Homo sapiens: one gene and its partners. The protein of the gene in region 3 purifies or fractionates together with the protein of the main gene of each other region. This does not show direct contact. Each region holds a gene or a part of one and is shown on either strand. Other genes may lie near its edges. The genes, in order: POTEF, PGAM5 and ASB14.

Region 1 (3,747 bases), on a different chromosome or scaffold from region 3:
TGGCTCACGCCTATAATCCTAGCACTTTGGGAGGCCAAGGTGGGTGGATCATGAGGTCAGGTGATCTAGACCATCCTGGCTAACACTGTGAAACCCCATCTCTACTAAAAATACAAAAATAAAATTGGCTGGGCGTGGTGGCAGGCGCCTGTAGTCCCAGCTACTAGGGAGGCTGAGGCAGGAGGATGGTGTGAACCCAGGAAGCAGAGCTTGCAGTGAGCCGAGATCACACCACGGCACTCCAGCCTGGGCAAAAGAGCGAGACTCTGTCTCAAAAAAAAAAAAAAAAAAAAAAAAAAAGCCACACACACACACACACAGTCACCCCCTAAATTTTGTTAAGAATGAGACAATGCTGCCACTCATGCCTGGCTCAGAAGGAGGCCACCCTCCAGAGATTGCAAGAGAAGGGGGAGGACTCCTTTCCCTAAGTGCACCTCCACCACTGCCACCGAGGCCCATGGTACAGCACCAGCAGGTTCGTCCCCACCCCAGGTCGGACTGGGCCCTGCAGTGCTCCTACTCCCCCTTCCCAGTCCCCAGACTTTCTGCCACTACCACCACTAGCACCAATGCCAATACAATTGCTGTCGCCATCAATGCAGCAGCCCACCCTACAAGGTTCCTACCACCTTGCCCCCGCGGGCACCCTCCTACCACTCCTGTCGAGCTGCAGTCTCCGTGGCTGCCATCAGTCACACGAGGCGAGCTGCAGAGTCACGCCACATGCAGGCTCCAGCGTACCACAGGTGATTCCTTCTCCTCCTCCTCCAGCCTGGCTTGGAGCAGCTAGACGGGCAAAGCCAGAAAAGCCTAGAATGGGATGCAGGGAGTGGTAACGTTAGAGCCTCACCTTGTCATGCTGGCCACTGGGTGGCAGGGACCAGCTTCAGCTAAGGCACTCAGACCCACCCACCGAAGTCCAGCCTCTCTTTCTGGCAAAAGGTGGCCAGGAACTGGGGCGGGTGTGAGTGCCTATGCTGAAACCACCCCCATCCAGGTGCAACTGGCCAGAAATTGCTGGGCCCACCAGGGCTGCACTCCTTGGGGAGCAGGAGTAGGAGAAACTCAGACCCAGCCAGCCCTCCCCACTCAACTGCTGGTTCCCATTCCTGACACCTCCACCCACAGTGCCCTGTTCCCACAGTCCCCCGCGATGCCCACTAATCCCCACCCGGTAGTCCCAGGTGGTCTCCCCAACACAGAGCATGGGGTGTGGGCGGGAGGTGCAGGCCGGAGAACCGCAGTGGGTGTGGGGGCCCTGCCCTGCTCAAGATTGCACCAGGAGGAACTCTGGAGTCTGGAAAAGAGAAGAGTCACCCGAAGGAGCAAGGAGACCATGGCTGTTGCTGTCCCCACCACCTCTGCAGCCGACCAACACCACTGGCAGTATAGCCCCCATAGCAACCCTAACCTGACCCCTGCCGCCGGCAGTGTAGCCCCCGGACAGCACACCCACCACACCCTGTGCCAGTTGCAGGCAGTGTAACCCCAATACCCCCCCCAACCACCCCCTCCACAGGCAGTGTAGCACCCGATAGTGCCCACAACCTGACCCAGCCACAGGTGTTGCTGCACAAGACAATGCCTCAAAATCGCCGCCCCCACCCCACCACAGGTAGCGCAGCTCCTGATAGCGCACCCTGAGTAAGGGCAGTGCAGCACCCGACAACACTCCTAAACCACCCCCCGCTGCCAGCATTGTAGCTCCAAATAACCACCAAAACCACTCCCTGCCCCGGGCAGTGCAGCAGAAAATAGTGCCCCTAACCCCTCCCCCGCCACCGGCAGTACACGTTAGTGCACACAACCTGCCTCCCCCCCATCACCCCCGCCACCACGGGCAGTGTAGCCCCGGACAGCCAGCCAAAACCGCCCCCCTCCACCGCCAGCAATGCAACCTCGGAGAGTGCCCCCAACCAGCCCCCTGACACAGGCAGTGCAGCCTCGGGTAGTGAGCCCCAATAGGACACCCAACCCCTGCCCCCACAGGCGGGCAGTACATCCCCGGATAACTCACCTACACCAGGACATTTCTACCACTCTGGCCGAGCTGCAGTGTCCCACGTCACCACCAAACACAGCAAGGCGAGCCCCAGGGGCTCAGGCTCCAGCCTCCAGCATGCCGCTCCCTTCTACTCGTCTTCCTGCCTGGCAGGAGAAGCTCCCGCTACTGGTTGCCCTCCTACCACTGTCGACACCACCAACTGCAGTGAGCCAGTGTCCGAGGCTCCAGCCAGAAACAGGTAGCAGCCATGCCGGATACCAAACGCCCACACTTAAGAGCCTGAAATGACCTGACGCCACCTCCGCATGCTTTACCTACTGAGGTTACGCACATGTGGTTCCCAGACTACATGTTCTGATTGGATGAGAGAAAAACCTCTAGGCCTACTCTGATTGGACTTTATTTTCATGCTGTGATTGGTTGTCTTAAGACTGGCTCTCATCCAATCAGAACATGATAATAAAGTCCAATCCAAGTAACCCTGGAGGGTTTTTCTCATCCAATCAGAACATGCAGTCAGGAATCCTCCTGTATATAATCTCGGTATATGACTGCTGCTGAAGGGAAGTCAGGCTCTTCCACGTTCCCGTATTTTCCTGTGGAGCTGCTCAGTGCCCGGCTTAGAGGACCAGGAATGGGTAATCACCAGCCGTACGCTGGAGGCTGGAGCCGCTACACCGTGGCTCGCCTCGCTGCGACTGGTGGTAACCGCGACCGAGACGGCAGTGCGGCGGAAGCGGTAAGAGGAGGAAAAGAGTTTTGGGATAGATGGAGGGGGTAAAGAGGGTGGTTAGTGCCAAAGGGAAAAGAGGATAGTGAGCAGGAGAGCGCGTTGCAAAAAGGCGGTGGGGAAAAGATAGTGGGAAAAAAAGTTTTTGGGTAGATGGAGGGAGAAAAACGGGGTGGGGAGCGGGAGGGAGGGAAGGTTTTGCAGAAAGATGGTGGGTAAAATGTTTATGGGTAGATGGAGGAGGAAAAGAGGGTGGCAAGGGAGGAGGAAAGAGAGGGTGGTGGGGGGGAGAAACAGCGTTGAGCAGTAGGGAGAGAAGGTTTTGTGAAAAGACAGTGGGGAGAAAAGGTTTTGGGTAGATAGAGGGGGAAAAGAGGGTAACAGGTGGGGGAAGGGAAAAGGGTAGCCAGCGGGAGGAAGACAAGGTTTTGCAAAAAGATAGTGGGCAGGAAAGAAAGACGGTGGAGAAAGAAAAGACAGTGGGTAAAAAGTGTTTGGGTAGATGGTGGGGGGAAAGAGGGTAACGAGGAGGAGGAAAGAGGGTGACGAGAGGGAGCAGGGAAAGAGAGTTGGGAAAAAAATGGGAAAATAGTTTGGGGTAGATGGAAGGCAAAAAAGAGAGTGGCAAGCAGGATAGGGCAAAGAAGAGGACGAGTGGGAAGGGGGGAAGACTGTGAAAAGACAGTAGGGAATATTCTGGGGGGTGGATGGAGGGGGAAAAGGGGAGGTGAGCAGGAGTGGGGAGAAGGCTTTGCGAAAAGACTATGGTGAAATGTTTTTGGGTAGAGAAGGGAAAGAGGGTGGCAAGGAGGAGCGGGGGAAAAGACGATGAGGAAAACAGTTTTCGGGTAGATGAAGGGCGAAAAAGTGGTGAGCAGCAGGAGTGAGGAGAAGGGTTTGGGAAAAGACGGGAGAAAATGTTTTTGCTTAGATGAAGGAGCAAAAGAGGGTGATGAGAGTGGGATGGGGGAAAAGAAGGTGGCCAGGGAGAAAGGGAAAAGACGGTGGG
Region 2 (3,647 bases), on a different chromosome or scaffold from region 3:
GCCTGATCAGGGGTCGTGTTTGCGGGCGGAGGAGGGGGTGTTTGCGGGCGGAGGAGGGGGTGTTTGAGGGTGGAGGAGGGCGTGTTTGCGGGCGGAGGAGGGGGTGTTTGAGGGTGGAGGAGGGGGTGCAGGTGCGGCACTCAGGTGCCTTTCACCTTCCAGGTCGGGAGCAGGCTGAACTCACTGGGCTCCGCCTGGCAAGCTTGGGGTTGAAGTTTAATAAAATCGTCCATTCGTCTATGACGCGCGCCATAGAGACCACCGATATCATCAGCCGGCACCTGCCAGGTGAGTGCTGCGCGCGGGGCCTCCATGCTTGCAGCAGTGGGCGGCTCGTGGCAGGGCCCCGGCCTGAGCTCCTGGCCACCGGGAGGTCACAGCATCTCCGCCGGCGGGGCCGCCTCACCCAGCGCTTCGCTGTGCTTCTCTGCAGGCGTCTGCAAAGTCAGCACAGATCTGCTGCGGGAAGGCGCCCCCATCGAGCCAGACCCGCCCGTGTCTCATTGGAAGCCGGAAGCTGTGGTAAAAACCTCCCCGGGGGGCAGCTGTGTCACCCTCGCCTTCCCTGGGCAAAGCGGCCCTGCTGGGCTCACCATCCACCACGTGCCCGGCCGTCCCACGGGCTTCCCCGGGCGGCGATGGGGTCTGTCCTCCTGACACCCGCCCTGCCCGAGCACTTCCGCACTGACGGCTCCTCACTCTGCCCCCAGCAGTATTACGAAGACGGAGCCCGGATCGAGGCCGCCTTCCGGAACTACATCCACCGCGCAGATGCCAGGCAGGAGGAGGACAGTTACGAGATCTTCATCTGTCACGCCAACGTCATCCGCTACATCGTGTGCAGGTAGGCAGCTGCTGGGCTGGGCGTGGTCTAAAATAATTTCAGACTTAGAGAAAAGCATGAGGAAGAAGCCGAGCGAGACCCTCCTCCACTGCCGATGCCACCCTAGTCAGGCCTCACCAGCCCCCGGGCGTCCACTTCCCGCGAGTCCTAGTCAGTTACGCGGTAGGTGGCGTGTTACTTGGAGCTTCTCATAAGGCTGTTTTGGGCAAGGGTGGTGCAGACAGGGAGGGACCCCTGTGGTGTCCTGGGTGGGGTGCGTGCTGGGTGGGGGGTCCTGAGTGGGGTGCGTGCTGGGTGGGGGTGTCCTGGGTGGGGTGTGTGCTGGGTGGGGGGTCCTGGGTGGGGTGCGTGCTGGGTGGGGGTGTCCTGGGTGGGGTGCGTGCTGGGTGGGGGTGTCCTGGGTGGGGTGCGTGCTGGGTGGGGGTGTCCTGGGTGGGGTGCGTGCTGGGTGGGGGGTCCTGGGTGGGGTGCGTGCTGGGTGGGGGTGTCCTGGGTGGGGTGCGTGCTGGGTGGGGGGTCCTGGGTACGGTGCATGCTGGGCGTCCGCACTGCCCTGGTTGTTTTCCCTTTGTAATTGAACGTCCTGTTTCCCCTCAAACTCGACCAACCACCTTCTGCCTCCGGCTGGATCCCACTGGCAGCATCCCGCCGCTGTTGTCCGCTGGGGATTTTGTGCTTCTGGGGTCCTGACCTCTTTCACTTGCTGATCTGTGGGCGCTCCCACCCGTGTGCCAGCGTGACGGCTCGGGGTGTCCGCTCCCCTCTGGGTCGAGGCCACAGCTGAGTCACGTTGCTGCTCGGGCTGCTCCCTCGGGGGGCCCTTGTCCCTCAACCTGCTCTGGTGCCCCACTCTCAGCACCACAGAATGATCCGGGTTCAGGTTGCGTTTTCCCTGCCACCACCCTGCAATCAGCCACTTCTTTAAGGAGCTCCAGGGCTGCAGCCACGTTAGAGGGCCCCTTGGGGGGCAGGGCCAGCTCTACGGTTACATGCCTGAAACAGTCAGAAGGGTTGGCCAAATCTCACTAAATGCAAATTTGAAACAAATTTGCCTCTTCTCTGGATCCATTAGGAAATGTGTGTGTGGGCTCCGCAGCTGAGGGGGCCCTCTTGAGTGTGACGAGTCCTGTGGTGGGAGGACAGGACGGCACTGGTCAGTGATGCCGTGTGAGGCTGGGCCCTGGTCTCTGCCCGTCTGTCACCTGGGCCTGTCACCAGGGCTGGGGCTGCTGGGAGCACCATGGTCAAGAGCAGCAGCTCCCAGAAAGTCGAGGATGTACGGGCCGAGATTCTCAAGCTTGGCTCCAGACCAGATAGAGCTTTTCTGGGGGTTGGAGCCTCCGGGTGGTGTGGCCTCAGGCTAAGTGAGTACCTGTTTGCTGTGAGTCGTTCGTTGCCTCCTGTCTGTGCTTGTGAATGAGCCATATGGGTGGCTTCTATGCTGCCACCACCACCTTGTGTGTCCATGACACAGTCACCCCGAGGTGACACAAATGCTAAAAATGCACAGAAATAACCGGGGCGGGAGAGTGGAGCCGACCTGAGTCCACACAGTGGTGAGGGCCAGGCACGTGCACCTGGACACGAGAATATGGCTGTGCTGTTCCGGCCGGTGCCGCCAGGCAGCCCTGAGGAGGCTCGGGAAGCAGCGTGAGGGTGGCCATGCGGCCCACTGAGACAGGGCGGTGGGTGGCTCAGAGGCGATGAAGGCAACTCCGAGCTTTTCCGCAAATGCGAATTGTGCCTAAGAAGTGCATGAAGATGCCACGGCGGGTAGATCCCATCTCCGTTCTTTGCTTTCCCAGAAAGGGACCTGTTGCACTAACTGGCTGCTCCCTGCTTTTATATGGGAAAAGCAGAAATTAAACTGTGTTTCCTCGTAAGAAGTCAGCGTTGTTCTGATCTGTGCAAATCTTGAGTTGGGGTTGGGCCCCTGTCCTAAAGAGGGCAGGTCCCCAAGTGTGATGGCTCCATTCATGTCGATCCCAGTCATCGATTCACGTCGATCCCAGCCAGATCTTCCCCGAGAAGCCCCGACTGAAGACAGGAGCGGCTCGGCTGATGTGTACCCCGGCCCTGAGGCTGCTCTGAGACTTCTGAGGGGCTCAGCCTCTGTTTGTAGAACAGAGCCCCCTGGCACAGCCTGGCCCAGCCTCTTTTAAGGACAGAGTCCCCTGGCTCTAGCCCAGCCCGTTTTTTTTTTTTTAGACAGAATCTCGCTCTGTCACCCAGGCTGGAGTGCAGTGGCGCGATCTCAGCTCACTGCAAGCTCCGCCTCCCGGGTTCACGCCATTCTTCTGCCTCAGCCTCCCAAGTAGCTGGGACTACAGGTGCCTGCTATCACGCCCAGCTAATTTTTTGTATTTTTAGTAGAGATGGGGTTTCACCGTGTTAGCTGGGATGGTCTCGATCTCCTGACCTTGTGATCCACCCGCCTGGCCTCCCAAAGTGCTGGGATTACAGGTGTGAGCCACCATGCCCGGCCTAGCTCAGCCCGTTTTAAGGACAGAGCCCCCTGGCTCTAACGTGCTCTTTCTCTCTCTCTCTCTCTCCCCAGAGCACTGCAGTTTCCTCCTGAAGGCTGGCTCCGGCTCTCCCTCAATAATGGCAGCATCACCCACCTGGTGATCCGACCCAACGGCCGAGTTGCGCTCAGGACCCTCGGGGACACGGGGTTCATGCCTCCCGACAAGATCACTCGATCCTGAGGGCTCCGGCCTCTCCTTCCCTCTGTCCTCCCTGCACAGGCCGCACACACTTAACGTTTTGTTCCCAAGGAGACCGGCGGAAAGTAGAAACCTGC
Region 3 (3,647 bases):
AATTGAATGGAATTACCGTCTAAGCTATAAAATTCAGAATTAGCTCAGAGGCCTGAGGCTTCCCATATTGTCTAAGTACCTGAGAAAAAAGTTTTATATCTCTTCGGTGGCTTCAGAGGATGCCTGGTTAAACAGCCATTTCTAGTTCTTCCTAGTTGGTCAAGAGTTTTTCTTTTTTTTTTTTTTTTTTTTTTTTTTTTGAGACGGAGTTTCCTCTTGTTGCCCAAGCTGGAGTGCAGTGGCGCAATCTTGGCTCACTGCAACCTCTGCCTCCTGGGTTCAAGCAATTCTCCTAAGAGTTTCTCATCTTTAAAAGGTATGTTTAGGGCTGGGGGTGGTGGCTCAAGCCTGTAATCCCAGCACTTTGGGAGGCCGAGGAGGGCGGATCACGAGGTTAAGAGATTGAGACCATCCTGGCCAACATGGTGAAACCCCATCTCTACTAAAAATACAAAAATTAGCTGGTGTGGTGGTGCCCACCTGTAGTCCCAGCTACTCAGGAGGCTGAGGCAGGAGAATTGCTTGAACCCGGGAGGCGGAGGTTGCGGTCAGCCGAGATCATGCCACTGCACTCCAGCCTGGCTGCAGGAGTTCAGTCAGCGTGGTGGGAAATATTATTAAAATTATAGAAAGAAGCACACCTTCTTGGAAGGCCGGGAGGTTTTGCAAAAGCTTCAGGAAAGGATTTGGCTGAAGGCAGCTGAATTCTCTCAGAGTAGGTTACAAGGAAGTGTAAGGGAATTGATCTAGATAAGTTAGTTTACTTAGGCCTCAGAACTGGCCTTTAATCATCCACATGTAGGACTGTTCTGGCAGCGGGGGTTGGGGGGGAACCGTGTTAATTACTCACACGATGTGCTGACTCAAAGCCTTTGTCATTAAACCTGTACTAAATAAATGCCTGAAGCACCAGCTTGTCAGGGCCATGGCTGCTACAACTCTTTCTTTGAGCAGCCTGGTCCCCTAGCCCACTCTTTCACTGGATACCTATGTCTAAGTACTTTCATCTGTCACTTGGCCAGGGTCTATGGTTCAGACCCAGCACCTGGCGACAGAGGGAGACAGCATCTCAAAAAAAAAAAAAAAAAAAAAAAGTATGTTTAGATTGTGGGATCAGTGATTAAAGATTATAAAGTTCCTAGAAGCAGCACAAAATAAAAGGTAGCTATTACTGTTTTTATTATTTATAATAATGTAATTGAACTTAACAGTAAGTGGCCCCTGTCAGCTGCCACATGGATGGGCAGGTGGCCTGAATTCTTAGGGATGTTGGCATCAGCTCCATACTCCAGCAAGAGAGCCACAGCATCTGGATTTCCTCCACTTGCGGCTTCAAGTAAGATGGAAGAAGAATCAGAGGCCTGACCATGAGCATTAGCTCCTAAGAGGAGAAAGACTCTTGTTAATGCAAAAATTATTTTCCACTGTATTTCTTGAGCAATCTTAAAAATATATCCCCATCACCAAAAAGCAATTAGTGAGCACGCACTCTAGCAAAGCACCAAGAATCAAAGTAACAGAATATATACCTCCTGCTCTCAAGTAACTTATAAACTAGTTGGGGAAGAAAAAAATGGCAGTTTCTAAATTATAAGTAGGTTAGTTTTTGAAGTAATTTGATGTCCATTTGTTTGGAACTTGAAAATTCCAGTAGAAATACTGTTATAAAAGTTGCTTTTATTTCTAGACCAGCCTATAAAAGCCCACTTAACTCATAACACACATATAGGATGGTACTAACAAATCTATCAAACTATAATACCATGCCATCTAATGATACTGTTTTGGTGGAAAAGGGCATTTGTTCTGTTTTAGCTTGTTCGTAGGGGACCATAGTAGGAGACACTGTAACTGTTTTTAATTGAGGTTAGGAACTGCCAATAGCCAAAGAGGTAAGTTGTTGTAGTTATTAGTACAGAGTATCCCTTATCCAAAATGCTTGGGACCAGAAGTGTTTCATATTTCAGGGTTTTTAAAAAAAATATTTGCACTACACTTACAAGTTGCATTATACTTACAAGTCCCAAATCCAGAAATCCGAAATCTGAAATGCTCCAGTAGGAATTTCTTTTGAGCATCATGTTGATGTTCAAAAAGTTTCAGATTTTGGAAGATTCTGGATTTCAGATTTTCAGATTAAGAATGCTTAACTTACACCCTGTATGTTAAGTGTTATGTGAGTGATGTGAATAATAAGAGTACAGGGACAGGCAAAAGGTCTTCTAGAAGATCTAGGGCTGGGGTTGTAAGGGGGGCTGGGGTTGTAAGGGGAGCTGGGAGGTGAAGGAAGGAGAAAAGAGTTTGGGTCAGTTGTGGAAGTGTTCCCAGTAAAATGGGCTCTGAAGAAAGAGTAGCATTTGAATGGACAAAAGTTACGGAGAGCATTCTGAAGCTCATATAAAAAAGATGTAGTGACTTTAATTTAACACAGACTCCATAAGAGTCATCAGGGTCCAGTGGCTGCCCAAGAACCCCATTCCAAGAATGCCTTAGAAGTCCAATAAGCCTCTGCTTATTGAGTGCCCACTATGTGCTGGTTCCATTATGTGTATAATAATTTTTAAACTTTGTAACAACCCCCAGCAGTAGGTGCTTAACATACTCATTTTAAAGATGAAGAAACTCATTGAGTTTCAGTGACTTCCCCAAAGATGCACACCTAGTAAGCAAGGTAGTCAGGATTCATATACAGTTATTCTAGACCCAGGGCTTATATCTATGATGCCATGTTGCCACTCTAGCAATGCAGGGTGATAATGTGATTTGGAATCAGATGAACCTTGAAATACTGGCTCTGTGATGTACCATCTGTGTCACTTGGTGCAAATTACTTTGTAAGGAGTCACTTAAAGGAAATGCTTACTCACTGAGGTCAACTGATACTGGTTTCTTTGCAGGGTAAAGGATTTAACATCTGTTGCTTCTTTCTCTGTATTTTAATCAATGATCTATACAAAAGGTTACTCTTTCCTCGTAGATGAAAGATTCCAATGTTTATTTTTGTTATTCCAGCTAATGACTTTAGACATTTCTTATATTGATCATTTAAAACATCTTACTTAAAATGTCTTATGGCCATTGATTAGCAACTAGCCTCCCCTATATGACAGGAAAGATTTAGATAATGTCTAAAAAGCACAAGGTTGTTTTTAAATATGAGTCTCTGCCATCTAGAATACTGGAGACCAGGACTGTGTATTGTTAAAGAACAAAATAATACTTCTAGACAGGGAGGAGAATAAAGATAATTCTATTATTGAGACTTTTAAAAATCTTGGTAAAAATTTGCTTTTTTGAAAAAAAGCTTTAGATTGATCCTACCTTGCTTCATCTAACAGTGTCATCAATGAGCTCTCCTCGAAGACAGTAAAGGCCAAAGTTCTCTGAGCCAAGGGTCCCTGCTAGTTAAGCCAGGATTCAAAATGCCCACAGCTACAGAGCTGGGGATAGGGGAGGGGGCATGTTTGAAGGGAAGTCCTGCAGCTGGTACCATGGCTGACCCTCACTTTCCTCAAGTATAAAATTAGGATAATACCTACCTCACAGAGTTTTTAAAGGGTTATGAGGCAACATGGGTAGTTTAATGCTTTTGCTTAGATAGTACCCAATAAGTTTAAGTTGCTTTCCCCTTCCCTTGGAGTTTTGGT

The links.
Region 1: the proteins of ASB14 (region 3) and POTEF purify together in Homo sapiens (affinity purification with mass spectrometry; 2 studies listed by BioGRID and IntAct, with this or other methods). This does not show direct contact.
Region 2: the proteins of ASB14 (region 3) and PGAM5 purify together in Homo sapiens (affinity purification with mass spectrometry, with the first as the bait; one large-scale study listed by BioGRID). This does not show direct contact.

The regions. Positions count from the first base shown.
Region 1 is NC_000002.12:130,127,052-130,130,798, forward strand, and holds the start of POTEF (POTE ankyrin domain family member F), read right to left. Parts: upstream 2,172-3,747; 5' UTR 2,021-2,171; intron 814-2,020; 5' UTR 658-813; intron 1-657.
Region 2 is NC_000012.12:132,717,277-132,720,923, forward strand, and holds part of PGAM5 (serine/threonine-protein phosphatase PGAM5, mitochondrial), read left to right. Parts: intron 1-162; coding exon 163-288; intron 289-433; coding exon 434-522; intron 523-710; coding exon 711-844; intron 845-1,485; coding exon of another isoform or gene 1,486-1,534; exon of another isoform or gene 1,535-1,891; intron 1,892-3,401; coding exon 3,402-3,552; 3' UTR 3,553-3,647. UniProt on the Homo sapiens protein: Mitochondrial serine/threonine phosphatase that dephosphorylates various substrates and thus plays a role in different biological processes including cellular senescence or mitophagy. Modulates cellular senescence by regulating mitochondrial dynamics.
Region 3 is NC_000003.12:57,279,093-57,282,739, forward strand, and holds part of ASB14 (ankyrin repeat and SOCS box protein 14), read right to left. Parts: intron 1,382-3,647; coding exon 1,210-1,381; intron 1-1,209. UniProt on the Homo sapiens protein: May be a substrate-recognition component of a SCF-like ECS (Elongin-Cullin-SOCS-box protein) E3 ubiquitin-protein ligase complex which mediates the ubiquitination and subsequent proteasomal degradation of target proteins.